7 linked regions of the Homo sapiens genome follow. The protein of the gene in region 6 purifies or fractionates together with the protein of the main gene of each other region. This does not show direct contact. Each region holds a gene or a part of one and is shown on either strand. Other genes may lie near its edges. The genes, in order: PCSK9, TBC1D22A, ENTPD6, SLC25A30, ATP8B2, CLEC4C and BRF1.

Region 1 (3,500 bases), on a different chromosome or scaffold from region 6:
CCCATTGGCTGAGCCCAACTGGAAGCTTTGCAAGGGAGCTGGTGCTGCAGTTTGCACTGAGCAGGCTGGAGAAGGCTGGAGAATAGACTAGGGGACAAACCGAATTGCCAGTGCTGTTATGTCATGATTTAGGCATGGAGTCCAGGGCCTGAGCTTCACTCCATGTCCATCCTGCCCAGAGCCTTGGCACAGCCTGGCTCCCAGACAAGATGTCAAGTTCAGAATCCTTCCTAAAAGGAATCCTCTATGCCAGACCGTGTTGCAGGGATATGGGAGTGCTGGGCTCCCAGCCTGATCAAGGAGCGAGAAAACTCAGGCTCCTAGTCTGTCCTCCGGGGCACTAGCAGGGACAAGGTGGGAGGCTGCTGGGCTGGGATGTGGGGACAGGTTTGATCAGGTAAGGCCAGGCTGTGGCTGTGTTTGCTGCTGTCCAAATGGCTTAAGCAGAGTCCCCCGGCCTCTCTGGCTTCTGCAGGCCTTGAAGTTGCCCCATGTCGACTACATCGAGGAGGACTCCTCTGTCTTTGCCCAGAGCATCCCGTGGAACCTGGAGCGGATTACCCCTCCACGGTACCGGGCGGATGAATACCAGCCCCCCGGTAAGACCCCCATCTGTGCCCTGCCCCACCCCATCTGAGCTGAATCCATTTGCTCTGCCCTGGCCTGGCCTCCCTGCTGGTGGTTTCCACTTCTCGGGGGGCTTTGGGACTCAGCACCTCCACTGACCCCTTTTTTTCTGTCCCATCCCCATCCCCTGCAGCCCCCACTGCCTGCCTTCCTGTTGCCCCACAAATGCAAAAGTCTTGCCTTAAATGATCCTCTTTTCCTTCTTTTCTCTTGTTTTCCTTTTCTCACCATTTGGAATGGCCCAGCAGGCTGCACTTACCTTGGAAGGAGGGTTCATCTGATGGTGACTCTACCTAGGGCCCCCAGGCCTCTATAACTCCCAGTGCCCTGCAGACTGGACCAGATCCTTTAATGGGATAGACACAACCCTGTCTGGGATGCCTCTGCCTACCTTCCTGTTTTGCTGCTCCACCTGCCTCCAGCTCCGTTTGGCTTCCTGGGGCTCCCTGCCTGGGCCACTTTGTGTCTTCCCTCTAGGCCTTTCTTTCCACTGTTCCCTCTGCCTGGTGTGGCCTGGCTATGGAAGGGAGGGAGGAGGAGCGGCCATGGAAAACGGTCTGCATTCTAGCAGGGACTTGCAGGTGGCAATTCAGTCGGGGAAGACTCTAGATGCACCTGGCCTGAGGAGAGAATGAAGGGTTCTAGTTGGACTGTGTTAAGTTTGAGGTGCCCATGGTGTGAGGTCTGGAGCTCAGCGCAGAGATGATGCAATGTGGTGGGTCCATGCAACATGGTGCCAGGACGCAGAGCTTGGGGTGAACTCAGCTTTCACCCCTTACCGGTTCTCGTGGGATCTTGGGAAGCCACTTTCTTCTATGAGCTTTGTCGTTCTTGTCTGTAAAATGGGCACATAACCCTGTCCCTGTCCTTCTCACAGGTTGCTGTGAGACTCCAATGAGTTGAAGGATGTGCAGATGCTTTTGGAAGTGAAAAGTTGGGGGGCTACTGTGTGACTTTGCATACACCCAAACTGTGTGACCTTGCATATGTCTGAGTTGCTGCCATTGCAACAGATCAGAGCTGGTGGGCTGGGTGTGGAGAAAGGGTTTGTGTGGGGGACATCCTCTGGCAAGGGTGGCAGCAGCAGAAGTGAGGGGCCTGGTCGGTCATGTGTGCTGACCCGGCCTGGGCAGCCTGTGGCCAGGGAGAGGACAGCTCCTCTGTAGGAAGAGCCTGTTCCTTTCCAACCAGGTGAGACCTCTTCAGTGGAGCCCTGGAGCCCCCTGTACTCCACATCAGTGCCTCAGGGACCTCCCGGAGCAGGCTAATATCAGAGACCAAGAGGGACACTGGCAGAGGATCACAGAGACCCCAGTCCAGGCAGGGACTGAGAAGATCTTGCCCCCTAAGTTAGTTTCCTAGCACTGCTGTGACAAATTACCACCCCCTCGGTTGGAACAAGTTGATTCTCTGCAGTCCTGGAGGCCAGAAGCCTGAATCAGTGTCGGCAGGACCACTTTCTCCCGGGGGGCTCCAGGGAGAAGCTTCTCTTGCCTCTTCCGTGTCCCAACAGCGGCAGCACACCAATCCCAGCCTCTGTCTTCACACAGCCTTCTCTGTGTCTCTCTCCTCTTCATTGTCTCATAAGGACACTTGTCATTGGATTTAGGGCCCACTGGATCCTCCAGGATGATCTCATGTGGGGAACCTTAACCACATCTGCAAGGACCCTTTTTCCAAATAAGGTCACAGCCACAGGTTGTGGGGGTTAGGATGTGAGTGTATCTCTTTGGCAGCCACTGTTCCCTCCTCTCCCTTGGGCCAGAAGCAGACGTGGGGCCCTTTCTTCCCCATAGGATGCCCATGGATTGCCCCCCTTCCCGCTTCCCCCGAGTGTCTGTGGGAGGTGGCAGGAATGGCAGGCAGGGGTGTGGAACCCCTTCTGGAGTCATATCAAGGGCTTGGCTGGAGGAAGTCCTCCTGGAGCTGTTGGGCTGGCATGGGGCAGGCTGGCTGGGCCCAGCAGCAGCTTCTTCATTCATGGGGAGGCCACAAGCATGGGCCCTAGAGCTGGCTGCCGCCCTCAAACCCAGACCCTGCACTCTTAACTGTGTGACCTTGCATACGTCACTCACCCTCTCTGATCTTCAGGTTCCTCTGCAAAAGGGAGGTAATGATAACCCTCACTCTGGGGGGCTGTTTGGAGGGTTAAATCAGTTATTGCTGTAGCATGCATTTCTCTGTCAGGTATTGAGTGAGGTGCTGTGATTTTAGCCCTGCATTTTTCTTTTCTTACCATTCAATAATAACGTTTTGAGCACCCACTGTGCGCCAGGCACCATATTAGGTGCTGGGGATACAAATGTGAATGAAATGAATGTGGTCTCTTCCCCCAACAGTGTATCCAGAAGATTAATCCATTCCTTAAACAAATGCTACTTGACACAGATTAGTTCTGGATAGGCTGAGAGCTCTGAAGGAGTGCAGGCAGCTGCGAGCCTGTGTATCCAGCAGAAGGATCAGGAAAGGATTCCTGGAGGAAGCGCTGTTCTAGCCAAGACCTACGGGGGCATTATTAACCAGGCAAAGGGGACGGTGTCCAAGCAGTGGAATGAACGTGGATTGAAGCTGTGAGGCAGGAGGGAGTGTGGCCTGTGCAGAAGGGACCGAGGCTGGTGAGACCAGGAGGGCCTGGGTGGCCTCCAGGTCAGATGTGAAAGGAAGAACTTGGCCACAGTCTGAGCTTCTCAGGCGTATGGCAGGGCTGCCTGGTGAGAGGGAATGAGCTCCCTGCTCTGGAGGTATGCAAGCAGGACTGGGCTCTCACCTGCCAGAGGCCACAGAGCTTTCCAGAGGCTGGAAGAGGCCACTCCAAGGCCTCTTTGCCCCTGAGAGTGGTGGCTCTTCTTGAGGCCACCTTGCCACGCTGTCAC
Region 2 (3,500 bases), on a different chromosome or scaffold from region 6:
AGAGATGGGGTTTCGCCATGTCGGCCAGGCTAGTCTCGAACTCCTGACCTCAGGTGATCCATCCACCTCAGCCTCCCAAAGTGCTGGGATTATAGGCGTGAGCCTCCATGCCTGGCCTTGTTTTCCTCCTTTTTTTTTTTTTTTTTCTGAGACAAGAGTCTCTCTCTGTAGTCCAGGCTGGAGTGCAGTGGCATGATCTCAGCTCACTGCTACCTCCACCTCCTGGGTCCCGGTTGAAGCAGTTCTCCTGCCTCAGCCTCCTGAGTAGATGGGATTATAGGCACTGGCCACCACGCCCAGCTAATTTATGTGTGTGTGTGTGTGTGTGTGTGTGTGTGTGTGTGTGTGTGTGTGTGTATTTTTTTTGAGACGGAGTCTCACTCTGTTGTCCAGGCTGGAGTGCAGTGGTGCGATCTCGGCTCACTGCAAGCTCCGCCTCCCGGGTTCACGCCATTTTCCTGCCTCAGCCTCCCGAGTAGCTGGGACTACAGGCGCCTGCCACCACACCTGGCTAATTTTTTATATTTTTGGTAGAGACGGGGTTTCACCGTGCTAGCCAGGATAGTCTCGATCTCCTGACCTTGTGATCCTCCTGCCTCGGTCTCCCAACGTGCTGGGATTACAGGCTTGAGCCACTGTGCCCGGCAATTTTTGTATTTTTAGTAGAGATGGGGTTTCACCATGTTGGCCAGGCTGGTCTTGAACTCCTGATCATGTGATCCACCAGCTTCAGCCTCCCAAAGTTCTGGGATTACAGGCGTGAGCCACCACACCCAGCCTTGTTTTCCTCTTTGTTTTTGAGTGCAGCCCTCATCTCAAGGAAACTCAGGAGGAAGACTACACCCACTGTACAATACAAGACTAGTAAGGGATCTTTCAGATAGTTCAACTCTTTTTTATTTTTGAGATGGAGTCTCGCTCTGTCGCCCAGACTGGAGTGCAGTGGTGTGATCTAGACTCACTGCAATCACTGCCTCCCGGGTTCAAGTGATCTTCCTGCCTCTGCTGCCAAAGTAACTGGGATTACAGGCGCCCACCACCATGCCCAGCTAATTTTTTTGTATTTTTAGTAGAGATGTGGTTTCAACATGTTGGTGTGGATGGTCTCGATCTCTTGACCTCATGATCCGCCCGCCTTGGCCTCCCCAAGTGCTGAGATTCCAGGCATGAGCCACCGTGCCCGGCCCACACCTCCTGTTTTTATGCAGCCTGAACTAAAGTCCCCCTTTTTTGCATCAAACTCAGTGTTGTTGGTGCCTCTGGCTTCCTGTTCTCCCTGGTATGTGCTTGCTTTCACTAGTGAGATCCACAGGTTTAGGAAAAGTATCTTTCTCATTCTTGCATTGTCAGTACCGATACCTGGTGTTTATTCCGAACTATCTCCTCGATTAGCCTGGAGAGTGAGTGGTTTGGCCAGGGCTATAAACTGCAGGAGAGGTGGTCTTGCTGGTAGACCCTCGGTTTATGCACACCCTGGTCCTTAGGTTGCATATGTGGCTGACGCTTTCCTAGAAACTTTGTTTCTGGATGAGCCAGGATGTGTGGTGTGGTAGATAGACCCTCCTAGTCAGAGGACTAGGAGTTGGTGGTCCAGATTTTAACTTTCTTTTTCCGGTAGTGGTCTTCACCAAGTTACCTCTGGGGCCATCAGTGTCTGTATCTGTAGCACAAAGCGGTTGAGTTTGGTTTAAGTAGCTATGGCAAATGGGGAGATATCTTTGGCTTAGCACGATTCTCTTTGAGGAGAAAAGAATGGGCTTCTTGGACCAGTTTTGAGAATTTGATGATTTGCTGATCCAGCAAATATGTATTCAACCCATAGTATGTGTTAGGAACAGCCCCAGGTGCTGGAGATAATATTAGTGAACAAAATAGACCTAGATCTCTGCTCTCCCAGAGCTTACAGTGCAGTGGGAGAGCCGGGTATAAATAACATAGCTCAGTTAAATGGAGTTAACTGTTGGAAGGTGACAGCTGCTATCAAAACAATGCTGGGAAAGAGGACTAGGTGGCTTAGTGGCAGGTGTGGTGGTGAGAAGGAGCCCTTCACTGAGGTGACATTTGAGGAAAGATTTGCACGAGGTGAGGGAACAGGCCAACCAGGAGGCTGGGGAAGAGCGGTCCTGGCAGAGGAGTGAGCAGGTGCAGAGGACTCCCAGAGCGATGCTGGCGTGCTTGAGGAGAGGAGCTGGGGCCAGGGTGGGTCTGGCCGAGAGAAGGGGAGAGTCGTGGGGTGCGTCATGAAAGGTGGTGGGGTAGGGCCTCATGACCACAGTGAAGACATGGACTGTTCTTTGATTCTGGCTGAATGGGGAACCTTTGGAGGGCTTTGAGCAGAGAAGTGGCATGGTCTGCATTAGGTTTAATGGGATATCTTTGGCTGCTGTACTGAAGACAGATTGGAGGCGTTGGGAGTCGGGGCAAGGGCAGAAGCAGGGAGACCAGGAGGCCAGGGTGCCGCAGCGTCCAGTGGTCACTGGTGGTGGCGGCTTGCACCTGAGTGGAAGCTGTGGTGGTGGCAAGAAATGGTAAGTGATAAGAATCCGAAGGTTTGGCCGGGCGCGGTGGCTCACGCCGGTAATCCCAGCACTTTGGGAGGCTGAGGTGGGTGGATCACTTGAGGTCAGGAGTTTGAGACCAGCCTGGCCAACATGGTGAAACCCCGTCTCTACTAAAAATACAAAAGTTAGCCAGGCGTGGTGGCAGGCGCCTGTAATCCCAGCTGCTTGGGAGGCTGAGGCAGGAGAGTCGCTTGAACACAGGAGGCAGAGGTTGCAGTGAGCCAAGGTCGCGCCACCGCCCCGCAGCCTGGGCAACAGAGCGAGACTCTGTCTCAAAAAAAAAAAAAAAAAAAAAAAAATAGAATCTGAAGGTTCAGTCTCTGACTGTCTGGGCTGGTTCTTTCCCGGGCCGCTGACTCTCTTGGCTCCCGAAGGGCTGTTGCTTTCCGCAGTTGCAGTTGGAATTCTCGCCACACTTCACTTTAAAAATGCCAAGACAAAATCACAGCACACTGGGCTTGAGAACACAGGCAGTCTTTCAGTGTGGGTCTGATGTTTGCTATTTTAGCTCAGCTCCGCCTGGCAGGGTGTGGTCTGCTGACAGAGGGTATGCAGGCAGCTGGGGTATGTGGAGTATGACGTTTGAAAGTGGCATGGTGGTGGCTGGGCGCTCTGGCTCATGCCTGTCATCTCAGCACTTTGGGGGGCCCAGGCGGGTGGATCACCTGAGGTCAGCAGTTCGAGACCAGCCTGACCAACATGGTGAAACCCCGTCTCTACTAAAAATACAAAAAATAGCTGGACATTGTGGCAGGCATCTATAATCCCAGCTACTCAGGAGGCTGAAGCAGGAGAATCATTTGAATCTGGGAGGTGGAGGTTGCAGTGAGCTGAGATCGCGTCACTGCACTCTAGCCTGGGCGACAGGGCAAGACTCTGTCTCAAAAAAAAAAAAAAAAAAAAAAAGAAAGTGTTATGGTAGCAAGAAAGGCCCAAATT
Region 3 (4,029 bases), on a different chromosome or scaffold from region 6:
TCTTTATGTAATCAAGACTTTTTTTTTTTTGAGACAGAGTCTCACTCTCTCACCTATCACCTAGGCTGGAGTGAAGTAGCACAATCTCAGCTTACTGCAACCTCTGCCTCCCAGGTTAAGCAATTCTCCTGCCTCAGCCTCCCAAGTACCTGAGATTACAGGCATGCACCACCACGCCCAGCTAATTTTTGTATTTTTAGTACAGACGGTATTTCACCATGTTGGCCAGGCTGGTCTCGAACTCCTGACCTCAAATGATCTGCCCACCTCGGCCTCCCAAAGTGCTGAAATTACAGGTGTGAGACACCGCACCTGGCCCATAATCAAATCTTATCATGTCCTATGTTAGTCTAAGAACCATATTCTACATGATCAGATTCACAGGTGGTATATTAAATCTAGAGGCAAAGTTGCTCCTTATTTACTGTCTACCCATTTAAAAAAACCCTTTATGTGCCATGCCCTGTGTCCAGCACCCCACAAAGCCTGCCTCACAGCCCTGGGTTTCCCTAAGACAGCACCAAGGCCCTGGGAATGTGTGTAAACGGAACTGTCTGAGATTGCAGTCAGTGTGTGGTGGAGCACACAAGAGTCCCTGGCTTCAGTCCCCAAATTGAACGTGCTTTATCACGACTTTAGAGATCCAAAAAACACTCACATACATAGACATACCTTACATAGACATAATTACTGAAGTTACACACCAAGTTCAGGAAGACAAAAGCAAGAGTCCAACTAGAACACAGTACTGAGAGAGCACAGAACCAGGAACAGCCTTGCTCTTGCACAAGGGTGGGAAGAAGAGTTCTTATAATCATGTTCACCATCCCCTCTCCCCAAGGAACAGGTCATCTCCATGTACCTGTGTCCCAGATCTAAACAGCAATTTCATTCCACTAGGTTAAGGTGTTTGCCCATGGCTGAGACACCTGCCGGAGAGGAAATGGGGTTTCTGTGGGAACCACTAACACCACAGCGTGAATGTGTTGATCAGGTTCTCCCTGACAGACTCTTTGAGGAAAACAATGCCATCTCAGTCTGTTCTTTAAAGGAGAGACAGGGTGGGATGAGGCTGTAAGGAAGGTAGCGGGTGGGGACTGAGGGAAGGCAGGGGTAGGAAGTAGGGTGCACACAGGCAAACAGAGAGGTGTGGCTCCTGCTGAGGCCACCCTCCAGCAGGTGGAGGCAGGAGTCAGAGAAGAGAATCTGAGGGTAGAGCAGTGTTGTTGGTGGTAGGAGCTACCCTGTCCCCTGGTTGGCTTTCTAGATGGGGATGGCAGGTCACCTCTTGGAAATACAGGGGCCATCTGATGTGGATTGATGGCTGCCTAATCTGTTGGCCAGTTTCTTCAGGTTTTCAGTTCAAGTACACGGAAGGGTCATGAATGCAAATGCCTGCCATGCACGCTGTATCAAAAAATGAAGCACATTAGAAACTTCCACTCATCCTCCTGGTGGGTTTCAGTAGGTTTTTCTCTCCTTGGCAAAAACCGGTGCGTGAACCGCCCGTCAACACCACCTGCTGTTTCCTTTACACAGGAGGCGGTGGGAGGGGAGGCGCTTCCAGATCTCCTGACACAAAGGGCTGCCCACCTCCCTGGTCCTTTACCCGAACCTTCAGGAGGCAGACGACACACACACTAGCCAGCCACTCTCTCCAAGGCAAGGGGAGGGGGACAAAAAGCAATTTTGAGATTTGTACAGTGCTTGCCAGGTCCTTCAAAAATGACTACCGGCCGCCCATGGCTCTTGCACAGCGGGTGGGAGGAAGAGTCCTTGTAATCCACCTCTCCCAAGGAACTCCTGCGCGAGGTTTCAGATTCCCCGCCTGCAGGCTATGGCTGACTTCCCCGTATCCTGTGTGACGTGGGATGTGTGGCTTCGCGCAGGTAAGGCTGGAATACAGGTGCCTGGAGGGACACCCAGAGCTGCCCAGGCACTTCCCGGCGGCTGCTTCCTTTGCACTTTGCACTTACAGGTGCACTTATAATAAAAACACCCTCCCTTCCACGCTCCCCTGGGCCCTCCCATCTCTCCTTCCTCTTCCACGCTCTCCTGGCTGTTGAATGTTTTCCACTGAAGGAGTCTAGTCTGTCCACCTAGGGGGCTCTCCCTCCCTCGGTCCAGGGCATTCGCGGCTCACAGGTCAGCTCGGGCAGAACCGCCCTGACCACCTATGAGCTCCTCGGGACACCACCCCAATGCCAGGGTGAATCGTCCTTACACCCTCAGTCCTGTCCGAGCGGCCTGATCCTACCTGTTTCCCAGAAACTGCTACGCGAAGCTTCCCCGCCGGGCTCATCCAGGGCGGAGGGGTCTGTCCCTGACGCAGACTGGGGGCGGGTCCGCAAAAGCGGGCTGAATGAATGAACGCAGCAGGGCTGGGGCCCCCTGGGGCTACAGGCCCCTGCTATTTGGCCCGCCCTGTGGCCCAAAACACTGGACTTGCCCCCCACCGGTCAGCGGAGCCCAGACATCCAGGGAGCCCTAATGGAGCCTGGACAGGAAGGCAGCAGGAGGTGGGACCCGGGGTGCGAGTGACCCCGAGGCCGTCCTCCGGAGCGCAGCGCGCCCGCGTGGGGGAGGCCCGCCTACAGTCGGTGATCCCCGGCCGCCCCCGCCAGCGCCCCGGCCCGCCGCTTACCATGCACCGCGCGCTCCGCCACACCCACGGAGACGAGTGCCCTTTTCCGGGGAGCAGGCGGCAGCCGGTCTTTTGGGCTCCCCCGCCCCGGCCGGCGCCACCCCGGCCTCCACCCGCGGGATACGACCCCACGATTCCCTAGGGCCTGGGCTCCGCCCCATGCACGTGGCGTCACAGGCTGGGCGGGGGGGCGCACCCAGCCGCGCATGCGCAGGCGGGAGAGGAGGTGGGGGTCGGGGGACCCAGTTGCGCAGGCGCGGGCGGAGTATGGGTGCTCAGCTGCGTAGGCGCGATGGCCTTCTTTTCTTTCTGCAGGTGGCCTTGCGGTTTTCTCCAGTCCACAGCCGGGCTGGCGTCGGCCCAGAGAGGGGGGCTCGGCAGTCTGGTTCCCCGAGCGTCTCATGGCGGGCCCTCGCCAGATTCAAGGGGTTCCCTTGGCCAGTTTCCTTACGGCGCGGCGGAGCTGGCCCTCGTCGTCCCTGGTAGGGGGCAGCCTCACAGCCTGGACCGGCCTGTGCAATTTCCCCCATCCCTCCACGTCTACATTTTATTTTTTTCTTTTTCTTTTTTTAGGACAATGCATGATGGAAATGCAGCCACATCATAGCAGGCAGGTTCATGAAATCTGCCCTCCTCCCACCGTTTCTTGACCCCATTTTCTTATTTTTTTTTTTAACAGGTTCTCACCCAGGCTGGAGTGCAGTGATGTGGTCTCAGCTCACTGCAACCTCTGCCTCCCGGGTTCAAGCGATTCTGTTGCCTCAGCTTCCTGAGTAGCTGGGATTACAGGTGTGCGCCACCACGCCTGGCTAATTTTTGTACCTTTAGTAGTGACGAGGTTTCGCCCTGTTGGTCAGGCTGGTCTCGAACTCCTGACCTAAGGTGATCCGCCTGCCTCGGCCTCCCAAAGTGCTGGGTCTATAGGCATAAGCCACCACACCCGGCCCTTGACCCCATTTTCTGTCTTCCTAGAAATCACCAAGGTTGCAACTCCTGACTGTCCTGGCTCACAGGCTCCAGCTTACTTAAGGACCCCACGGTGGGGGCTGCCCACTTGCACACCTATGCTAGGCGCCCTCATTCCCGCAAGGGCCAGAGCCCCTTCCCGGCCCATGGCGTCTGGCCAAGGAGGTGTGGGTGCGCCCCAGCCAGGCCTGGTCCTAGAGGACGGCCCCACCTGCGCACTGGGGCATCTGGGAGAGCTATTAGTGGAAGAAGCCCAGGTTCCTGAAGCACCAAGTGGGCAAGAGTTTATTTTCAGGATGGGACGCTTTTGAGGGTGAATAAGTGCTAGCTGTATGGGATGCGGGGACAGTACACAGGCCCGGCCTGGCAGCCGGGCAATGCGGTGCCTGTTGGAAGGTCGCCCACAAGCACCTGGTTGG
Region 4 (3,500 bases), on a different chromosome or scaffold from region 6:
GAAATTTCTAATCCTTTTAAAATTACTTGATTCATGAAACATACTTTTATTTTTTTGAGATGGCGTCTTGGTCTGTTGCCCAGGCTGGAGTACAGTGGCGTGGTCTTGGTTCACTGCAACCTGCACCTTCTGTGTTCAAGTGATTCTCCTGCCTCAGCCTCCAAGTAGCTGGGATTACAGGCAGCTGCCACCATGTCCAGCTAATTTTTGTATTTTTAGTAGAGACGGGGTTTCACCATGTTGGCCAGGCTGGTCTCAAACTCCTGACCTCAAGTGATCTCCCCACCTTGGTATCCCAAAGTGCTGGGATTACAGATGTGAGCTACCATGCCCGGCCTGAAGCATATGTTTTTACATCTTAAGGTGAACAAGTAATGTGTAAATAAGTTAGACCTATAGTTGAGTTTCTCACGGGAAGAACTCTAAATATGTAGAGTCAAATAATGTGTCATTGTTTACAGATGAAACTCTACCGATAAATGTGATATGTGGAATTCTGTCTGGAGTCATATCTTCAACCATTGCTAATCCAACTGATGTTTTGAAAGTAAGCTGTGCTATCTATATCTTATAGGCACATTCCACATTTTCTTATTGAGAACAACATTCGGGTAATGGAATCTGTGAATGTAACATCTGTGTATATGTGAATCTGTTTATAATTTAAGTGCCATGAAGACTAACTTTTAAAGGTCCATGAGGTGGGTTTTCCACTTATACAGATGAGCTCAAAAGCAGAGCTCATTTTGGAGACAAAGATTTCGGTGATTGAGGAGAAAAAATTATTTAGGCTTGGACTGCATTTCATTTTCGTTTTTCACGGAAAATGTTCCTTGTTTTATTGGTTCATTAAATATAGATGGACTGCAAGTTTTGCACAGATCTAGGCTGCTCATTAATGACTATTTTTGAATCCATCTTTTTTTTTTTTTTTTTTGAGATGGAGTCTCACTCTGTCGCCCAGGCTGGAGTGCAGTGGCACGATGTCAACTCACTGCAACCTCCACCCTGCTGGGTTCAAGCGATTCTCCTGCCTTAGCCTCCTGAGTAGCTGGGATTACAGGCACCTGCCACCGTGCCTAGCTAATTTTTGTATTTTTAGTAGAGATGGGGTTTCACCATCTTGGCCAGGCTGGTCTTGAACTCCTGACCTCATGATCCACCCGCCTTGGCCTCCCAAAGTGCTGGGATTACAGGTGTGAGCCACCGTGCCTGGCCTGCATCTTCTTTGTTAAATTTTATTTCAGGAAATACAGATGAAAAAATTTAATTACTACAATTAGATTACATAACACATTAGGAGACCTTATTGAAAATACTAGGGATAGAGCATCTTTAAATCCTTTTTTGGAAGCAACTAATTAAATAAAATAAAAATTAGGAATGACTTACTTTTTGAACCCCACAGAGTATTCCTTTCCTACTTCCCCTCTTTTCTTTTTCTGCCCCACTATTTAACTAGTATTCTATGCTTCTATCTTGTACCAGTTGGTATACGCCATGGTTAGAATCCAAATATGAGTAAGACAAGGACCCTGCCCTCAGAGAGCCTTCAATCTAATAGGGGATTCTGACAAGCATTACAGCCATCTGCAGTATTCTGGGTACACTACAGTTATATATGCATTGTAGCAAAGGGACCTCGTGGGTAAGGAAGAAATACAAGGTACCTTTGCCATAAGTTTACCAGTGTTGGGGTAAGAGAGCTAGAGAAAAATATTCGTACTCTCATTAATTTCTTAATTATATCTTAGGCCTTATGGGAAGGCAGTTCCTGTATCTTGGTTTATTTTCCCACGTTCGTGTGGCAATAACAGTTCTTTTAGAAGTTAGTGGTAACGTATTTGCTCCCTAAACAAAAATAAGGTACACATTTTGTAGTAAAAAATCTTTCTTCATTCTTAAAAATGCAAAGAGCTACATCAAACATTCTTTTTATGTTGGAATCTTGGTCATGTGGATTCCACTAATTAAAGTGTAACAGAGTGTAACAGGTATCATGTGGCTGTCACTTGGCTAGCTCGCCTGCATACCTTTTGGTTCAGCTGGCTGGAGACTGTAGTGGCTTGGAGCAGCTAATTTAAGAACTATGCTTGCCTGTGCTTCGTGCTGCCAGGTACACTGGATAACTCATTAATTAGATTAAACCTTTGAAATTAACTTTTCTCTCACCTATATAGTAGTAGGGAAGTATGCTGTTTTCTATCCTAGAAAGACTTTTTTCACAAAAATCAGTTTCTCCTTTTGACATTTAATGAACTGCTGTACGTAGGACTCTGGACTCTCTTAGATGCTTTTTGGAGATCTCAGAGTTCCTAAGAATAAATTTTTATACGTTTTAGTCATTTTAAGGTAGCATCATAGCAGTATTTATATGACAGTTTTTTCCTTGCTAATGGTTATTAAGCAACTGACTGACGGACTGACTGTCAGAGGTATACATTGGTTGTGGGTGGGATTGTGGTAGTTTCTTTCTGATGTTGGTCTTTAAAATAATCTCTAGATTCGGATGCAAGCGCAAAGCAACACCATTCAAGGAGGAATGATAGGCAACTTCATGAACATTTACCAGCAAGAGGGGACAAGAGGACTGTGGAAGGTAAGCCAGAAGGATGGATCGAACTGATTTATTTAGTTCTTTTTTCCTTTTTTGAATTTACTTGTTCTATCACTTAATTTTAATCCAAGTGTCGTAATGGAGTAAGGGAAGAGGAGTGGCATCTTCTGCCCATGAAAATATCTTTCTTTATTTCCCTATCTATAAAATGGGAATATAAGGAATATGTCATGATTTTTTTTTTTTTTTTTTTTTTTGAGATGGAGTCTTGCCCTGTTGCTCAGGCTGGAGTGCAATGGCACGATCTTGGCTCACTGCAACCTCCACCTCCTGAGTTCAAGTGATTCTCCTGCCTCAGCCTCCTGAGTAACTGGGATTACAGGCGTGCGCCACCACACCCCGCTAATTTTTGTATTTTTAGTAGAGATGGGGTTTCACCATGTTGGTCAGGCTGGTCTCGAACTCCTGACCTCAGGTGATCTGCCTGCCTCGGCCTCCCAAAGTGCCGGGATTACAGTTGTGAGGCATTGCGCCTGGCCTATGTCATGATTTTTAAAGTTGCTTTTGAATAATTTATGTATAAGATATTGTGTGAAGGATAAGCACTTTTTTTGTTGTTGTTTGGTCTTTTGCTCTTTTTTTTTTTTTAAATTCTTATGGAGAAGGATTTTAGGTTACAGTTCCATTGGGTGTTTTGATCCATACAATTTCATGGCTTGTAACTGAAGTCTGTGTTATTAGGCAAGCATGTGGTGTAGAGTGTTATTTCCTAGTATTCTAATGACTTGTCAGTTCATAGAATAGCCCCTAAAGATCATCCAGTGTGATCTCTCAGTTCATAGAAGGAAACTGGAGGCTCTGAGAGGTGACTTGTCCTGGCCAAAGTCTGGCCCAAGGTCATATAGTTAATGCCAGCATCAGAATTAGACTTCAGAGTTTTTGA
Region 5 (3,996 bases), on a different chromosome or scaffold from region 6:
GGTTTCCTAGGCTGCCCCCAAGCTGGGTAGGGGCTGCTGTAAGCTACCCTCCCTCAGACCCATACCAGTTGTCCCTTTTCCTTTTGCTCCCTGAGCCATAACAACACCCACTCTTGATGGTTCCCGGGATCTCCCCTCCTTGCCTGTCTTACCTGGGGGGCGCTTTTTTGCACACACTGCCATCTCACCCAGCAAGATCCCAGCAATCCCATGGGAGACCCTGCAAGAAGTGACAGACGAATGAGGTCAGGAAGCTGAGGATAACCCTTCCCTCCCCTCATGAGACCTCTTTTGAAGACCCTCTTCTCCAGCTCTGACCCTGCCCCTCCCCCAGCCTCCTTCTCCCAGTCTCTCCTCTTACTGCCATGATGGGTTCCTGGGAAAGAGGGGACTTCCCCACCACCTCCCATCATGCCCCTGCCTTGGGTGACATGGGGGGCTGAGACTTTACAGAAGCCCATGCCTGTAGGGAAAGGAGAAGAGGCCAGATATTGAAAAAAGGGGAACAGCTCTCAAGGTATCCATCCCAGGGACAATGGAGGCTCTCATGTGTTCTGGCGGCAATGAGTAGTGCTTGTGCTTACTAGAAAGCAGTTTCCCCAAAGGGTGGGGTGGAGGGAACATGAGCCAGGAAACACCTGGCAGGGCATCAGGAAACAGGGTGGGCAGGCTCCACCCTTCTCGAAAGGCTTATAAGTTCCCTGCCATCCCCACCCCCCATTACTAGGGCTTCCATTATCACCTCCTCCAGGGGAGCTCACATTAGAGGCATGGCCCTCACTTTCTGCACAGACAGTCCCTAAACAGCTTCCCCTCAGCCTGGGTCAGCCACCCTTCTGGGCTGGCAGAGGGGTCTTCCCAACCCTGGTGGGGAGTTTGCCCCTCCCTCCCTCCCACCCCAAGCCTAGTCCAGTCAGTATGGCACAGGGTGCAGGCTTAGGGAGCACCAGTGAGACAAGCCTCTGCCTGCTTCCGCCTTCCCATGTCCTTTCTCCTAAAAGGTTCAAGGCCTGGCCTTACAAGGCAGAGCCTCATCCTTACTCCCCAGCCTGGCCCAAAGGAAACTGCCAGTCAGTCACCTCCTCTTTCCTTGTCTGGGTGGAAGGCCTTTCACCTCCTCATCCTCTTTGGTTCCCTCTGCCTTTAGCCTACCAGGCACACCCCACCAACCTGTCAGCCCCAAGAGATACTAATTGCCTGTCTGGCTAAGCTCTATAATTACAGATTCTGGCCACAACCCAGTCACCCACACCAGTTCTCCCTTCGCTAGCTCAGATCCCGCCCTTACACCAAGTCAGGCAATCCTGAAAGCCAGAAGTCCTTTTCATCCCTGACCTTCTCCAACTATGGCAGTCCAGGGTGCCTGGCTCAGGAAGAAAAACCTCATCCATATTTTAGAGATGCCAAGCCCTCCTCCAGGGCCCCCAGCCAGGGTCTCCACCCAGTCTGAGTATGAGTCACGGGAGGGTGGGGAGCACAGGGAGAGGTTAAAGGATGCAAGAGTGGGCATCACAAGTTCTACAGGCAGCCCCGCCCTTGGGGAGGAAGGGATCAAGAAACACTATCAGCCTAAACATCTGAGTTTGAGTCCCATGAAAGAGTTAATGTAGGAGCTGCACACGCCATCAGGAGTCAGGAGTCTGGATATGGACCAGGAAAGTTGTTCTACCTCTGAGACCCTGGGGAGACTGGAAGCAGGCTTGGCCCCAGACCTCATCCCCTCTGGGGGGGCCATCATTCCAAGGGGAAGAGAGGAGAGACCTGGGAACTGGGATCCCCTCTCACTTTTCCTTCTTAGTCTCACACAGCCTGGGTTTTCTGAGCAGGTCAGGCCCATCAGCCACGTTGCCCTGCCCCGTCACCCAGCCCCAGCCCCCTCTCGGCCACATTTGGGATAAAAATAGCCAGCCCCGGCAAGCAGGCAATGCTCCATGGAGGAAAACAGCTCCTCCTATAGGTCCGGTCCCTGCTCCCTTACAAGCAAGAGCCCCAAAGGCTGGCCACTTCTTTCAGAGGAGGATGGCAGGTCAGGGAAACAGGAGGAAATGGAACTCGAGACCTCCAGCTCACTGGCCACCAACACGAGCTCGGGCCACCTTCCCTCACCAAGGACAGAACTCAGGGCTCCCGGCACAGCTATCATCTCCCAGAGCTACTGCCCCTTCCTGACACCCTCAGTTTTCCTCAGGCATAGACCTCCACCTTACTGAGACAAAGCCTACCAGCCCAAACTCCCTTCTCCAGGCACCAAACCCTCGGGTCCCGGTTACTCCTCTCGCCCAACAACTCTCTGGGCGGGTCTCCCCTGGCCAAGGCTGCACGAGCTTCTCCTTGGCACTCGCGCCGCTCTCCTGCTCTCCACGCGCCCCTTCGGCACCCCATCCTCCCATCCTGTACGCAGACCCCCGCTCTGCCCCGTCCCCGGGAACCCGACAGCCCCTCGTCTCCAGTCGGCCGCCATCCCCGCCCCGTCTGGCCGCAGCTCCCAAATCTTGGCCCCCGGTGCTCCCCAGTCTACACCCGCTCCCCGGCCCCTCCAGCCCCGCGGCTGCGGCCGCATCTCCCTCTGCCCTCCTGGCCCCGCGCTCCCGGGCGCCCCCGCTTCGCCTCGCCTCGCCTCACCTCAGCGCTCAGCGCTCGGCGCCCGCCCCGGCGGCCCCGTACTGCCCATGCCGGGGGCTGGGGCGGGGGGCGCTCGGCTCGGCTCCCCACGGGCTCCCGCCCCCCCAGCTGCGGCCCCGCTCCCCCGGGGCCTCGGCCCGCTACTTTGTGTCAGTTTCGGCCACGGCGGGGCGGAAGTGACGGAGCCGGCGGCGGGGGCCGGGGGGCGGGAGGGGGTTTTGGGGAGGGGAGAAGGAGCGGGGAGGAGGGAGCAGCCATCTTTGTGCGGGGCAGTGGGAGGGTCTTAGCCCTTCCGAGCCTCGGCGTGGCTGGGCTGGGATGCCCCCACACGTACGTCCATCCGCATCTTAAAAGAAAAAACAATTCGGGAGGCTAGATCGCTCTGAGGGGGTATTTTTAATTCGGAAGAAGGGAATAGAGGAACACTGCCTTCTCTGCAAAACGAGCATCCTCTGCAGGGAGCGGCAGGAGAGCTGTAGAAGTGGTGAATAACCAGAATTTTCCCTGGCGCCAGGTTGCCCTCAGCCCGACTCTCGCTCCTCGGAGCCGCCCGCCCTCCGTTCCTTCACCCTCCCTCCTCGCCCTGGCTCATTTCACTGTATCTCAACTCTCCTTGAATGAACGACACAGCACCGAGATGTCTAGGAACGGTGCCTCAGTTTCACAGCCTTGCTCTCTGTCTCTGTGCCCCGCCGCCCTCCTTCCCTCCGCCCCCACCACGCCCCCTGGGTGGAGGCGGCTTCCCCACCCCTAACTACCCTCTTGGGGAGGCATCCCCGAGAGGGTGAAGGTGGGAGGCGCCGAGGCGATGAGAGCTAGGAGTCGGCAGTCGGGACAGGCTATGGAGGGCAGTCCCCAGGGTTGTGCCCTACACTGGATGGTGGCCCCCTCCACCCTGCAGATGCCCGCAGCCGTCCCCATCCAGCATCCAGGTGCGCACCCTCTAGCGGTTACCTCGAGCAACTACATTCCGAGAGGCCCTGAGGGTCAGAAAACCGCTTTGCGGGAGGAGGGGATGAGAAGCCTGAGTCCTGGTACCTTATCCTCCTCCACTTCTCCCTGTCCAGGATCCTTCTTAGTTTAGGAGGAAGGGATGCCAAACAGATAAACAGAGAAGCCTCCCAGGTTCTGGCACATTAACAAAGAGGAAGAATGACTGTTGTTCCCAGGCGGGGTCAGTGGCTGGCTCCAGGGTCCATGAGTGAAGTGAGGGTTGTCCTAATCATAGCTTACACTCCAGCATCTGAGCTGAGGCAGGAGTTTCCAACTCTGAGGCTTTGTGTTGAGCAGACACCAGATCCTGAGCTGGCTCTGGGCCCTCAGGGTGGTGCAGAGCCACCAACAGCTGGTAAGTGGCTGTGCCAACGGTGGCCC
Region 6 (4,252 bases):
ATAATTTGTTCTATTTTAAATTATTTTTCTCATTTTTGCCTTTGCTCCTTTCTTCTCAGCATTGTATACTCAAAGGAATACCCTCATACTCTACATTTTAATCCAAGACAGAGGAAAGCAACAGGGAGAACCCCTGAGGCAGGGGCAGAGGGAGGTTCAGGGAACTGTAAATGGGAGGTAGACAAGAGACCAAACAGGACTTTAAGTTGTTTCAGCAAGTATACAGCTTAGAAAGGATCTCATTGGTCTGGGTCCTAAAATATCTCAAAGGATGGCTGCTAACTCAAAACTTTTTTTTTTTTGAGACTGAGTCTTGCTCTGTCACCCAGGGTGGAGTGCAGTGGCACGATCTCGGCTCACTGTAAGCTCCGCCTCCCGGGTTCAAGCAATTTTCCTGCCTCAGCCTCCTGAGTAGCTGGGACTACAGGCATGCACCACCACACCTGGCTAATTTTTGTATTTTTAGTAGAAACGGGGTTTCACCATGTTGGCCAGGATGGTCTCGATCTCTTGACCTCGTGATCCGCCCACCTCAGCTTCCCAAAGTGCTGGGATTATAGGCATGAGCCACCGTGCCCAGCTCAAAACTTTTTTCTCACTACTCTACAATTAAATCTCAGTTGAACTCTGGGAAGATTCTGGAATACCTAGGTTCTTTCTTTCTCAGTGTCTATTTCACCAGTAGTTGTAACCATCCTTCAACCAAACATCTCCATTTGAGTAGCATAGGCTATAATGGATTTTCTCTATTTAAGATTACTCAGCAGTGGCCGGGCACGTGGTGGCTCACAACGGTAACCCCAGGACTTTGGGAGGCTGTATTAGTCCGTTTTCATACTGCTGATAAAGACATACCTGAGACTGGGCAATTTACAAATGAAAGAGGCTTTTTTTTTTTTTTTTTTGGAGATGGAGTTTTGCTCTTGTTGCCCAGGCTGGAGTGCAACGGCAGGAGGTCAGGAGTTCGAGACAAGCCTGGCCAGTATGATGAAACCCTGTCACTACTAAAAATACAAAAATTAGCTGGGCATGGTGGCACATGCCTGTAGTCCCAGCTGCTCGGGAGGCTGAGGCAGGAGAATCGCTTGAACCCGCGAGGCAGAGGTAGTAGTGAGCTGAGATTGCACCACTATACTCCAGCCTGGGTGGCAGAGTGAGACCCTGTCTAGAAAAAAAAAAAAAAAAAAAAAAAAAAGACAATCAGACCTGCAACCATGAACTGTTTTTCATGTATTTCTCGATTTCCTTGTTTGTGTTTCCTTATTTCTGAACATGATGTATGTTTTAAATTGAAAGCTTTAGCTCACTGCAGAGTCTCCTAAGTCACATCTCTTCCTTTGCAAGAGTAGGCGAAGAAGGATCTAAGGGCTTGGCTTGTTTGAAAGAACCACACCCCGAAAGTAACATCTTTGGAGAAAGTGATACAAGAGCTTCTGCACCCACCTGATAGAGGAAGTCCAAAGGGTGTGCGCACACACAATGGTGCCTGAAGAAGAGCCTCAAGACCGAGGTAAGCACTCATCTTCTCAGTTCTAGGGAAGGTAGTAGGAGCAGGATGGAGTGGGAAACAGGCATTGAGGTGATAGGGATGACTTTGGAAGAAGAAGTAGACAGCTTTTCATAAATAATAGTAATTTCAGTATGGAAACAGGTATGGACCCAAGATACTTGGATCAGGGAAAGATGAAAGAAAAAAAGAAAGGCCGGGCGGGCGCGGTGGCTCACGCCTGTAATCCAGCACTTTGGGAGGCCGAGGTGGGCAGAGCACCTGAGGTCAGGAGTTCGAGACCAGCCTGACCAACATGGAGAAACCCTGTCTCTACTAAAAATAGAAAATTAGCCAGGCGTGGTGGCACATGCCTGTAATCCCAGCTACTTGGGAGGCTGAGGCAGGAGAATCACTTGAACCTGGGAGGCGGAGGTTGCAGTGAGCCGAGATCGTGCCATTGCACTCCAGCCTGGGCAACAGGAGTGAAACTCCATCTCAAAAAAAAGAAAAAAAGAAAAACAACTCGGGCCTAGAAGGCCTTAAAGGAATATGAATTTGGCCAGGCATGCAGGCAAATGCCTAAAGTCCCAGCTACTCAGAGGTTGAGGCAGGAGGACCACTTAAGCCTGGAAGTTTGAGGCCAAGGCTGTGCAATTCAAGGGAAAAGAGAGTAAGGAATTGGAAAGTACAGTTTACTCTGAGAGTTTTGCCTGGATTTGTCTTGGGTTCCAGGGTACTATCTGGTCATTTGTTCTGAGATAATTTCTATAATCTCTTTTTGCTTTCACATTTTTTCTGTTTTAATTAGTTTTGATCATAGCCTGACTTTATTATTCTAAGATTTTTGGGACTCTGGTTTCCTGGCTCTTTGGCAGTGGGGATTATGACTGTGCATTTGTCATGCTGATCTGACAGAGAAAGGACTCTGGTGGTTCCAGTTGAAGGTCTGGTCCATGGCAGTCGTATCCATCTTGCTCCTCAGTGTCTGTTTCACTGTGAGTTCTGTGGGTAAGTTCTTGGCTGGAGTGCAGTCATCTCTTGGTCCTTTTCCCAATCACATTTTATCAATTTCCTGAAGAAACACGTTCCTCTTTCTTTTTTTTTCTTTTTTTTTTTTTTTTTTTTGAGACGGAATCTCGCTCTGTCGCCCAGGATGGAGTGCAGTGGCGTGATCTCGGCTCACTGCAAGCTCACCTCCCGGGTTCATGCCATTCGCCTGCCTCAGCCTCCCGAGTAGCTGGGACTACAGGTGCCCGCCACCATGCCTGGCTAATTTTTTGTATTTTTAGTAGAGACGGGTTTTCACTGTGTTAGCCAGGGTGGTTTCGATCTCCTGACCTCGTGATCCGCCCACCTTGGCCTCCCAAAGTGCTGGGATTACAGGTGTGAGCCACCGCGCCCGGCCACGTTCCCCTTTCTTGACATAAAATGGCAACCCTAACTGAGAAGGCTATGTTTCTAATAAAATGAGTTATTACTATTATTAATTATTCTGGATAATTGTGTGTACTTCCAGGTTTCTTTGCCTGGTTTTAGTTGCATTTTTCAAATGTGATCATAACTGTCTTGGTCAGCTTGGGCTGCCATAACAAAATACCATAGACTGGGCCAGGCGTGGTAGCTCATGCCTGTAATCCCAGCACTTCGGGAGGCCAAGGCAGGCAGATCACCTGAGGTCAGGAGTTCAAGACCAGCTTGGACCATATAGTGAAACCCTGTCTCTACTAAAAATACAAAAATTAGCTGGGTGCAGTGACTCGCGCCTGTAATCCCAGCTACTTGGGAGGCTGAGGCAGGAGACTCAGTTGAACCCAGGAGGCAGAGGTTGCAGTGAGCCGAGATCACGCCACTGCACTCCAGCCTGGGTGACAGAGTGAGACTCTGTCTCAAAAAAAAAAAAAAAAAAAAAAAAAAGCATAGACTGAGTGAGTTAAAAAACAGATATTTATTTTCTGATGGTTCTGGAGGCTGGAAGTCTGACATGAGGATGTCAGGATGGTTGGGTATGGTGAGGTCCCTCTTCCTGGCTTACAGCTGATGCCCTCTTGCTGTGTCCTCACATGATGGAGGGAGTGCTAGCTCGTCACGGTTTCTTCTTATAAGAGCATTCATCTCACCATGAGAGCCCCCCCTCATAACCTCATCTAAACCTGATTTCCTCCCAAAGCCCCTATCTTCAAATACCACAAATTGGAGCTTGGGACTTCCATATATGAACTTGGGGAGGACGCAATTCATTCTATAACAATAACTCCACTTTGATGGGTGTGCTGATGGTGGGTACCATCTAGTTGATCTGCTCCTTTGTTTTAAAAAAGTCTCTATTGGGAACATAACTATTATTCTTTCTATGATGCTATAATTGTATTACTGTGGGGTTTTAATCTTCATGTGAGATTCTTCCCAACATGACAGGAAAAATTGTTCATATGGCCAGGCAGTGGCTCACACCTGTGAGCACTTTGGGAGGCTCAGGTGGGAGGATCGCTTGAGGACAGGAGTTCAAGACCAGCCTGGGCAACAGAATGAGACCCTGTCTCCATAAAAAATAAAAAATATAACTTGGCATGGTGGCATGTGCCTGTGGTCCCAGCTACTCAGGAGGTTGAGGCAGGAGGATCGCTTGAGCCCAGGAAGTTGAGGCTGCAGTGAGCCATAATCGTACCACTGCAATCCAGCCTGGGCGACAGAGAGACCCTGTCTCAAAAAATAAAAATAAAAATAAATGTTTATACAGTGATACAATGGAAAAATAAACAAAGT
Region 7 (3,500 bases), on a different chromosome or scaffold from region 6:
GAAAGCAAGTTGTCATGGCAGCAGACGCAGGGTTTCCCGGGCAGGCACAGTGTTAAGTGCATCCGGGCCTGGTGACAGCGCACTGCCCTCACTGTGCCCTGCCGGGGGAGGATGGTGGTGTGGAGCAGTGCAGAGCTGGAAGTCTGTCACCCGGGTGCTGTCAGAACAAGCTCAGAGCCAGCGCTGTCAGGTGGCCCCAAGACGCCTCTGAGCCCAGGCACACTCTCTGGAGGGAGGCGCAGGCCCAGCAACCAACTGTGGTGGTCCTGGGGGAAGTGCTGCGAGGCGGCGGGTTCTTAGCCCCTGGGGACCGGCGCAGGTGGTGCCTGGGCCGAGAGTGGGGAGGAGAGAGGGGATCTGTTGCTCTGGGCAGCCCCTCTGTCTCCCAGGCAGGCTCTCTAGGTGCCCACTTGGCATCCTTCCTCCCTCGTCACAGTGGTGATCACAGGGGGCTGGAAACCTTGGTGGCTTCTCAGTTTCCCTGGCACACAAGTAGGCCCCAGCCGCCCCTTCCTCCAGCTTCATCTTGAAAGCTGAGCTTTCTCTCTGAGCTGTCGTTTTCTAGTCCCAAGGCCACTGTCTTTCCTAGGTGTTTTGCCTATTAATTGAGAACTAAGCCTGATACAGCTTCGCAGTTTACTCTGGAATATTTAACTAAGGCATCAGGGCAGGTGACCAGAGGCCTCAGGAGAGTCCCCAGAGGGTCCTGACCTTGGAAGCCAGGCCCCACGGGGGAAACCACACTGGTGCTCCAGCGTCCCGGGGCACCCGAGCAGAGACTGTGCAGAGAGAAGGGTGGGTGAGGACTGAGGCTCAGCGTGGCTGGAGGGGCCAGGCAGACGGTGGAGTTGGGGGCCGTTGGCAGTGCCCTGAGGAGGCCGTCTGCTCCACTGAGGCAAGGCGGGGCTTCCCTGTGAGCCCACATCAGTGTCCTGCACTGTGTGTGCCCTGAGGCTTCCCTCTGCCAGCAGGTGATGGTGATGGCGCCCACACACCAGACATCCTGGGCTCCTGCTTGCAGGGGTCCCTCCTCGTCCTGTGCAAGGAGCAGCACACCTCAGTGTCACCAGAACTTGTGGGGGTGGGGAGCGTTTCCCGTAATCACAACTTTCAGTGGCTTCACAGTTAGAACTTCGAAGCTGGGGTGTCCGTGAGTGCTGCTGTTTTCCGTTTGGGGTCACGATGCAGCCGGACCTAATTTGTGACATGGCTGCATGTCACCTGGCGCTGGCCCTGGAGGGGGACATGGGTGGTGGAGTTGCCCTCGCCTGCTGGGAAGCTCCCTCTGCCTCAGAGAAGGATGTGACCGGCCAGCCTCTCCCTGCGGCCTGGGGTTCTGAGCATGCGCCTGGCCTCCTGGCGGGGCTCTAGTCCTGAGGGTGGAAGGCTCCAGGCTTCTGCCTCTGCTCCATGACCCCCAGAACCCTAAGTTGTGGCTGAAGGTGCCTGCTCTTAGGAAACGGGTGAATTCTGTCCCGTTGCCATCTGGGTGAGGGAGGAAGCTGCTGGTTAGCCTGCAGCGTGACACACGTCCTGTTTTCCGTAACCAAATTGTAATCACTACAAAACCAGCTCCTCCGCAGTGGCCTGGGGAAGGGGCCTGGGCTTGGGAAGGGGTCTGGACCTGGGGAGGGGATGTGGGCCTGGGGAAGGGGTGTGGGCCTGGGAAAGGGTTGCTCCTGGGAAGGGTCTGTGCCTGGGAAGGGGTGTGCGCATGGGAAGGGTCTGCGCCTGGGAAGGGGTGTGGGCTGCCGTGCTTGGCCCTGTTTGTCAGTGCTCCTCCCAGATGTCTGATGCTACTGCATCCAGCCCCACCAGTAGGCACACGCTCTGTGTTCCCGGGTCCCCGTCCCCAGCTCTCAGGGATGCACTGCGGTCTGGTCCAGCCTCCTTTGGGCACTCACCTGTGGGACCCCTGAATTCCTCTCCATCCATTACTGCCCAGCCAGCCAGGCCTCCTACAGGTGTCTCCCCTTAAAAGAAGTTTCCAGTCAGGTTTGGTAGCTCATGCTTGTAATCCCAGGATTTTGGGAAACCAAGGTGGGAGGATCACTTGAGGTCAAGAGTTTGAGACCAGCGTGGGCAACATAGTGAAACTGTCTCTACAAAAACTAAAAAAACAAAACAAGAAAAAACCCCAAAATACAAAAATTAGCTGGGCATGGTGGTGGGCGCCTGTAATCCCAGCTACTTGGGAGACTGAGGCATGAGAATCGCTTGAACCCGGGAGGTGGAGGTTGCAGTGAGCCAAGATCGTGCCATTACACTCCAGCCTGGGCGACAGGAGCGAAACTCTGTCTTGTCTTCAAAAAAACAAACAAAGAAAACAAAAAATAAGAAAACATTAGCTAGGCGTGGTGGCGCATGTCTGTGGTCCCGCCTATTTGGGAGGCTGAGGTGGGAGGATTCCTTGAGTCCGAGAGGTTGAGGCTGCAGTGAGCCGTGATGGTGCCCCTGCGCTTTAGCCTGGGTGACAGAGTGAGACTTCTTTTTTTTTCTTTTTGAGATGGAGTGTCTCTCTTGTTGCCCAGGCTGGAGTGCAATGGCGCAATCTCATCTCACTGCAGCCTCCGCCTCCCGGGTTCAAGCGATTTTCCTGCCTCAGCCTCCCAAGTAGCTGGTATTACAGGCATGTGCCACCATGCCCGGCTAATTTTTGTGTTTTTAGTAGAGACGGGGTTTCGCCATGTTGGCCAGGCTGGTCTCAAACTCCTGACCTCAGGTGATCCACCCGCCTTGGCCTCCGAAGGTGCTGGGATTACAGGCGTGAGCCACCACGCCCGGCCAGACCCTGTCTCTTAAAAAAAGGAAGTTTCACAGCAGCAACAGAAAGTCTCCAGTTAAAAAAAAATTTTTTTTTGACAGAGTCTTGGCTCACTGCAACCTCCATCTCCTGGGTTCAAGCAGTTCTCCTGCCTCAGCCTCCCGAGTAGCTGGGACTACAGGAGCACACCACCATGCCTGGCTAATTTTTTTTTTGTATGTTTTAGTAGAGACGGGGTTTCGCCCTGTTGGCCAGGCTGGTCTTGAACTTCTGACCTCAAGTGACCCACCCACATCGGCCTCCCAAAATGCCGAGATTACTGTCATGAGCCACTGAGCCCGCCCCCAGTTAAGTTGAATGAGCACGTGAATATTAAAGGTTATTGCTTTCTCATGTTGGAAGAATCCTGGTGTGAAATGGACAGTGCTGTGCTGGGTCTTTCAGGACATGGAGGGCCCCTGGCCCGCCTTTCTGTCTGTTCGGCGGTATGGGGTGTTGCTGGCTTTGTCGGAGCTCAGAGGTGCCCCTGCGGCCTCTGGCCCTGCTCTGGCTCTGGTGGAACCGCAGGTCCTCCCTTGCTGTACACAGGGGGGCAGTCTTGGCCAGGCCCCACAAGACCTGGCCCCTTCCACATGTCAGTTCCAGCTAACGGGAACTAGCACATATTTTTTGTTATAGAAACACGCTATGGAAAATACCAAATGTTTTTAGAAGTAGAGGGCATCCTGGCAGTTTC

The links.
Region 1: the proteins of CLEC4C (region 6) and PCSK9 purify together in Homo sapiens (affinity purification with mass spectrometry; one large-scale study listed by BioGRID and IntAct). This does not show direct contact.
Region 2: the proteins of CLEC4C (region 6) and TBC1D22A purify together in Homo sapiens (co-immunoprecipitation; one large-scale study listed by IntAct). This does not show direct contact.
Region 3: the proteins of CLEC4C (region 6) and ENTPD6 purify together in Homo sapiens (co-immunoprecipitation; one large-scale study listed by IntAct). This does not show direct contact.
Region 4: the proteins of CLEC4C (region 6) and SLC25A30 purify together in Homo sapiens (affinity purification with mass spectrometry; one large-scale study listed by BioGRID and IntAct). This does not show direct contact.
Region 5: the proteins of CLEC4C (region 6) and ATP8B2 purify together in Homo sapiens (affinity purification with mass spectrometry; one large-scale study listed by BioGRID and IntAct). This does not show direct contact.
Region 7: the proteins of CLEC4C (region 6) and BRF1 purify together in Homo sapiens (affinity purification with mass spectrometry; one large-scale study listed by BioGRID and IntAct). This does not show direct contact.

What each region holds. Positions count from the first base shown.
Region 1 is NC_000001.11:55,046,048-55,049,547, forward strand, and holds part of PCSK9 (proprotein convertase subtilisin/kexin type 9 isoform 1 preproprotein), read left to right. Parts: intron 1-475; coding exon 476-599; intron 600-3,500.
Region 2 is NC_000022.11:46,765,650-46,769,149, forward strand, and holds part of TBC1D22A (TBC1 domain family member 22A), read left to right. Parts: intron 1-2,398; exon of another isoform or gene 2,399-2,528; intron 2,529-3,500. UniProt on the Homo sapiens protein: May act as a GTPase-activating protein for Rab family protein(s).
Region 3 is NC_000020.11:25,194,483-25,198,511, reverse strand, and holds the start of ENTPD6 (ectonucleoside triphosphate diphosphohydrolase 6), read right to left. Parts: upstream 2,801-4,029; 5' UTR 2,648-2,800; coding exon of another isoform or gene 2,645-2,647; intron 2,540-2,644; exon of another isoform or gene 2,303-2,539; coding exon of another isoform or gene 2,258-2,302; intron 1,890-2,257; exon of another isoform or gene 1,620-1,889; intron 1,408-1,619; exon of another isoform or gene 1,286-1,407; intron 1-1,285. UniProt on the Homo sapiens protein: Catalyzes the hydrolysis of nucleoside triphosphates and diphosphates in a calcium- or magnesium-dependent manner.
Region 4 is NC_000013.11:45,401,374-45,404,873, reverse strand, and holds part of SLC25A30 (kidney mitochondrial carrier protein 1), read left to right. Parts: intron 1-461; coding exon 462-547; intron 548-2,503; coding exon 2,504-2,599; intron 2,600-3,500. UniProt on the Homo sapiens protein: Antiporter that transports inorganic anions (sulfate, sulfite, thiosulfate and phosphate) and, to a lesser extent, a variety of dicarboxylates (e.g. malonate, malate and citramalate) and, even more so, aspartate.
Region 5 is NC_000001.11:154,324,329-154,328,324, reverse strand, and holds the start of ATP8B2 (phospholipid-transporting ATPase ID), read right to left. Parts: upstream 2,801-3,996; 5' UTR 2,623-2,800; intron 579-2,622; exon of another isoform or gene 464-578; intron 221-463; 5' UTR 184-220; coding exon 153-183; intron 1-152. Other genes in the region: AQP10 (aquaporin-10), read right to left, coding at 3,845-3,996. UniProt on the Homo sapiens protein: Catalytic component of P4-ATPase flippase complex, which catalyzes the hydrolysis of ATP coupled to the transport of phosphatidylcholine (PC) from the outer to the inner leaflet of the plasma membrane.
Region 6 is NC_000012.12:7,744,576-7,748,827, reverse strand, and holds the start of CLEC4C (C-type lectin domain family 4 member C), read left to right. Parts: upstream 1-1,452; 5' UTR 1,453-1,479; coding exon 1,480-1,510; intron 1,511-2,404; coding exon 2,405-2,497; intron 2,498-4,252. UniProt on the Homo sapiens protein: Lectin-type cell surface receptor which may play a role in antigen capturing by dendritic cells. Specifically recognizes non-sialylated galactose-terminated biantennary glycans containing the trisaccharide epitope Gal(beta1-3/4)GlcNAc(beta1-2)Man.
Region 7 is NC_000014.9:105,291,002-105,294,501, reverse strand, and holds part of BRF1 (transcription factor IIIB 90 kDa subunit), read left to right. Parts: intron 1-3,500.